Regions from separate parts of the Homo sapiens genome. Here region 2 is linked to region 1. The links come from fine-mapping of genetic effects on gene expression. A gene starts in region 1. The other region holds a variant in brackets. All regions are shown on one strand. Distances are between the middles of the regions. Region 1 holds the start of ABCB9 (ATP binding cassette subfamily B member 9). Region 2 overlaps MPHOSPH9 (M-phase phosphoprotein 9).

Region 1 (2,908 bases):
ACAGGGGTGGCTCGCCCTGACTCCGTGCACTAAAGAATGGCACAGGATAAGCAAGTGGCCTTGTCCCCACCAGGGGTCTTGTCAAAGGCTTTTCTTCCCAGGGTAGGAGACATTGGTTGGGGTATCTCTAGGCATCAGCTGCAGAGAAGGCCAGAAGACGATAGATAGCAGTTATTATGACGCTGCAACAGAGACCCTTTGCAGAGAAGGCCAGGAGACAATAGATAAAAGTTATTATGACACTGCAACAGAGACCCTTCACCGGGCCCTACTATGTGCCTGGCACCTCCCAAAGCAGCCAGGCCTCCCCACTTCCCTGGGAGGACCCTGTGGTCATCAGCTTCGTTTTACAGCTGGGGAGACAGAAGAGGTTAAGTGACACGCAGAAAAAGGACGAAGGCAGGATGGAGACCCGCATCCAGGGTCTCCAGGATGGAGACTCGGGGGTCCCCTGTCCAGGCTATTCAGGGATTGCAAGAAAAGGGGCCAAAGAACTTGGGTGGCCCAGTGGCCTCGGTTCACCCCTGACATGGTGAGCTTTTTACCCCGGTGTGGGCCCAGACCCAGATAAGCCCATTCCATTCGCTGCGCAGCAAAGCACTGACTGACAGAGGCCTGCTGGGTGGGAGGGCCTGACTGTGGGGGTCCCTGGCTCTGGGGCAGGAGCGGGCTGGGTCTGCGTGGGTCCATCCTGATTTCATCCCTGCTGAGCCTCTGGCAGCCCACGTGGGGCCCAGCCTCACTCTGGGACTTGAGAAGCTGTCTCAGGTGCTCTCAGCTCTAGGAGAGGCAGAGAGGCGCGAGGTGCCCTCCCTCCAAGCCTCCTCTTGTCACCCGGCCCTGCACTATCCGGAAAAGGGGAATGGGCAGAGGCGGGGATCCTGTCAGCCCAGCTTAAAGCTGTCTCAGTTAATGTCAGGCCGGGGGAGGAGGCTTTTTTTTTTTTTCCAGAGGCCCAGAAATAAAAGAGGCTCCCCTGGGAACCTACAGGCCTCACTGCCAGCGTGGATGGCGGGGAGCAGCGGCAGCCCACTGGCCTGCTGAGGAGACTGAGAAAAGGGCTTTGCCCAGGTCAGCAGGAACAGGCCAGATCCCCCAGGCTTCTGCCAAAGCCCTGGTGCTCAGGATCCCTGGGAAGCCCTGACATGGACAGTGGGAGCCCTCAGAAGGCGCGCCAGCCCCGTCCTGGGGGAACGACAGCCATCCCAGGATCCTCCAACACCTCCCACATTTTCCAAGAGGCAGCGGCGCCTTGGGGGTTAAAAAAAATGGCAACATTCGCCCTACGGGCGCGGAAAGGATGCTGCAGGGATGGGGGCTGGGAGCTGCGGCTGCGGGCTCCGGGAGGGCTCCAGGGAGGCTCCCACCTTCAACCGAGATGCCTATTCCCACCGAGGCAGGGGTGCCCAGACGCCCCCCAACGCGTGCCTGGCCTGGCACCCTGGCCTGGAAAGGTCCCAAAACCAGGGGTCTAGGGTGCCTTGCCCTTACCTGTTACCTGGCACCAGGTGAGCTCTGGGAGGGGGCGCGCAGCAGGCTCGGGTCTGGGGTGCAGTTTCCGCGCTGCTCATTGAAGACTGCGCCGGACGCGGTCCTCGCTCCGCTCTTCCCGCTGCTCCTCCCCGCCTCCCACCCGCGCTGCGCCGCTGCAAGGTCGGAGCTGAGACTGGCGTGCGTTGAGACAGGCTGATGGACGGGGCGGGGCCTCAGTGACGGAGGGGGCGGGGATCCTGGGGCAGGGACCGGCGGAGCCTCCCGGGAGGGGCGGGGCCTCAGGAGGAGTGGGCGGGCTTTCCTGGACGGGGCGGGGCCCCCGAGGAGGGGGCTGGCGAAGCCTCCGGGTGGGGACGGGCCTCCTGGGGGCGGGGCCACAGCTGGCCACCTGCTCACCTGTGGCAAACTCCTCCCACATCTGGCCAACCAGGCCCTCCACACTGCGTGCTGGCCTCCACCTGGAGCCACGGGCCCATCCTGAGGGGACGGAAATGGTTTCACCTGAAGGAGGCCAGCTTTTTAACTGGCCTTTTTCCCTGGAGGGACAGCCAGCCAGTCCAGGAGGGTGGGTTATGGTCCTCATTCATTCACTTATTCTTTCATTCGTTCACCCAACAGATATTTATCCAGTGCCTACGGCGTGCCATATGCCCTTTTAAGCATTTGAAATTAAACAATTAACAAAACAAGATCCTTGCCCTTCTGGAGCTGACATTCTAGTGAGGGTGTCAGACAACACATATAAGCAAATGAGATATATTGGAAGGGAATACATTTTACGGAGAAAATTGGTGCAAGATCAGGGATTCGGGGCATTGGAGAGGGGAGGCAGCGATATGTCCTCAGTGACTGCCAGGTGCTGGGAACACAGCTGTGTGTGAAAAGACAGAAAACTCCCAGCCTTCATGGCGTGAAGGGGACAGAACATCAGCAAGTAAGTGCATAAGGCCATTCAGGTACTGGATGCAGTAAAATAAATAAAATTGTGTAAGTGAAAGGTGAGAAGGCGTGAGCCACGGGGAGGGAGGAACATCCTACGCTAAGGCCTGCAAGTTCAAAGGCTCTGAGGTGGGAACCAACTTGGCCACTTGAGGACCAGAAAAGGGTCCATGTGGCCTGAACCGTGGGAAGTGGGTGGGGGAGTGGACTTACGGCCCAGAGGGGCAGCAGGTGGGGCTAGAACTGCCCACATCCCTGGATCCTCTGATCAGAGGCTTTGTTTTTTCCTGAGACAGAGACTCCAGGATGGAGTGCAGTGGCGAGTTCTCAGCTCACTGCAGCCTCTGCTTCCCAGCTTCAAGTGATTCTCCTGCCTCAGCTTCCCAGGTAGATGGGATTACAGGTGTCCGCTACCACGCCTGGCTAATTTTTGTATTTTTAGTAGAGATGGGGTTTAGCCATGTTGGCCAGGCTG
Region 2 (2,908 bases), 220 kb after region 1:
CCCGTCTCAGCCTCCCAAAGCACTGAGATTATAGGCGTGAGCCACCACACCCAGCCTAGTGCCTCTTAAATGTGAGCCTGCAAAAGAACCAACACTTGGAAAAAGACATTAAATATGAAAGATACTTCAAATGAAAACAAAAGCTTAACTCAGAATAATGAAAACTACAGAAACAGTCCAATGGAAGCCATAATATTCTCAAAGAAATAACAACATTAGATTCAAAACAGGAATAGAAAGCTATTAAAAATGATCAATCAGAAAAAGAGTTGTTAGAAACTAAAAAAAAAAAAAATATTGTTACAAAATTTCGGCATACCAAGGATAAAAAGATGATCCTAAAAAACTTCCAGAAAGAGAAAAAAAGAACCACATTAGAAAGGAATGAGAAACATGATTACTAAATGCAATGTGGGCCAGGCACATTGGCTCATGCCTGTAATCCCAGCACTTTGGGAGGCCAGTGTGGGAGTATCGCTTGAGCTCAGGAGTTGGAGACCAGCAAGAGCAACATAGTGAGACCGCATCTCTACAAAAAAATAAAATTAGCCAGGTGTGATAGCCTGTAGTGTCTGTAGTCTCAGCAGTCGGAGAGGCTGAGGTAAGAGGATCACTTGAGCCCTGGAGGTTGAGGCTGCAGTGAGCTATGAATATGCCTACTGTACTCCAGCCTGGGTGACAGAGTGAGATCCTGTCTCAAAGAAATGATAACAATAAATGCAATGTGTGATCCTTGATTGGATTCTGGATTAAAAAGCAAAAAACAATACATCTATAAAGGATATTATTTAGACAACTGGCAACATTTGAATATAGACAGAATGTATTTACATATTAGTATTATATCAATGTTAAATTTCCTGAGGATGAAAAGTACATTGAGATTACACAGGAGAGGCCGGGCATGGTGGCTCAAGCCTGTAATCCTTAGCACTTTGGGAGGCCGAGGCGGGTGGATCACGAGGTCAGGAGTTCGAGACCAGCCTGACCAACATGGTGAAACCCCGTTTCTACTAAAAATACAAAAATTAGCTGGGCATGGGGTGGTGTGCGCCTGTAATCTCAGCTACTTGGGAGGCTGAGGCGGGAGCATTGCTTGAACCCGGGAGGCGGAGGTTGTGGTGAGCTGAGATCGTGCCATTGCACTCCAGCCTGGGCAATAAGAGCAAAACTCCGTCT[CAA/C]AAAAAAAAAAAAAAAAAAAAAAGAGATTACACAGGAGAATATCTCTGTTCTTCAGAGATACCTATTGAGGTATTTAAGGGTAAATTATCATAGTGTCTAATTTACTCTCAAATATAGTTCAGCAAAAGAAAAAAGTTTATATCTCTATGAAGACAAAGCAATGCTGTAAGATACTCACAACTGGTAAATCTAGGTAAAGAATATACAAGGGTTTTCATTGTATCATTCTTACAATTTTTCTGCAGGCTTGAAACTTTGAAAGCCATGGGAGGGGAGAGAAAGGAAAAGAATTGATCATGTCATAGGCAATAAAACAAAGCCTTCAAATCTGAAGAAAACATACACCCAGAATCACAGTTAGGATCTAGATCTTCATCTTCAGCTAGGACCTAGATCTTCACCCACCACAATTATAGATAATATGTAAAATTTAAGAAATAACAATATCGAGCCAGCCACAGGGGCTCATTCCTGTAATCCCAGCCTTTCATGAGGCTGAGGCAAGTGGATCACTTGAGGTCAGGATTTCGAGGTCAGCCTGGCCAATATGGTGAAATCTCATCTCTACTAAAAATGCAAAAATTAGCTAGGCATGGTGGCACGCGCCTGTAACCCCAGCTACTCAGGAGGCTGAGGCAAGAGAATTGTTTGAACCCAGGAAGTGGAGGTTGCAGTGAGCCAAGATCATGCCACTGCACTCCAGCCTGGGCGACAGAACAAGATTCCATCTCAAAAAGGAAAGAAAGAGGCCAGGCGCAGTGGCTCTCGCCTGTAATCCCAGCACCTTGGGAGGCTGAGGCGGGCAGATCACCTGAGGTCAGGAGTCCGAGACCAGCCATGGCTAACATGGTGAAACCCTGTTTCTACCAAAAATACAAAAAACTAGCCGGGTGTTGTGGTGCTCGCCTATAATCCCAGCTACTTGGTAGGCTGAGGTAGGAGAATCACTTGAACCCAGGAGGCAGAGGCCGCAGTAGCCAAGATTGCGCCATTGCACTCCAGCTTGGGCAATAAAAGCGAAACTCTGTCTCAAAAAAAAAGAACGAACGAACAATATCAGTACATTATTTAGAAATACATAAATACTAGAATATGATATACCTCGAGAAAAAAATGAACAAAGGATGTAAAAGGCCTTAATTTTTAAAAAAGAAAAATACTTGAGATTTAAACCACGTTCATGTATGGGAAGAATCAATATTTCAAGTCTCAGCTGTCTCCAAATAAATCTGTAAATTCAGTGCAATTCCAATCGAAAGCAGAGTGGCATGCTGACAGTAATATTTGTATGAAACAAAACAAAGCCAAGAAATAGGCAAAATAATTTTTACAAGAGCAAAAAAACGAGATAAGGAAATGGCACCAAAAATCAACACTTGTTATAAAATACTAATAATTTACATGATGTGGTTCCAATTCAGAGACAGACCAATGGAACAGCTCAGAGCCTCAAAGGAGATTTACACGAGAAGGAAATAAAATGTACAACAGAAGTCAGTAAGGGAAGGAAAATCTATTTAAAAATGATTCTGGGACAACTGGTTAATCATTGGAGGCAGGGAGGATCAAGTTCAATTCCTACTCATACCATATATTACGTAAGAGGTAATTCTGGGCTGGGCGCCGTGGCTCGCACCTGTAATCCCAACACTTTGGTAGACTGAGGCGGGTGAATCACCTGAGTTCAGGAGTTCAAGACCAGCCTGGCCAACATGGTGAAACTGTC

What was found. PIP is the estimated chance that this variant, and not a neighbour inherited with it, causes the effect. A credible set is the group of variants that fine-mapping cannot tell apart.
Region 2: its variant is the best candidate, but not a certain one, in a credible set for the expression of ABCB9 in whole blood (INTERVAL, PIP 0.74).

What each region holds. Positions count from the first base shown.
Region 1 is chr12:122,964,796-122,967,703 of GRCh38, forward strand. It overlaps ABCB9 (ATP binding cassette subfamily B member 9), which reads right to left and starts at 1,668. Exons shown (of 12, transcript NM_019625.4): 1 at 1,492-1,668. RefSeq lists enhancers at 309-1,116, 1,117-1,922 and a silencer at 1,687-1,976.
Region 2 is chr12:123,185,048-123,187,955 of GRCh38, forward strand. The region is part of intron 13 of MPHOSPH9 (M-phase phosphoprotein 9); the gene reads right to left. Among named protein-coding and RNA genes, the nearest start is that of PITPNM2, 35 kb to the left of the region's middle. The variant CAA/C (reference allele first, on the strand shown) is at 1,180.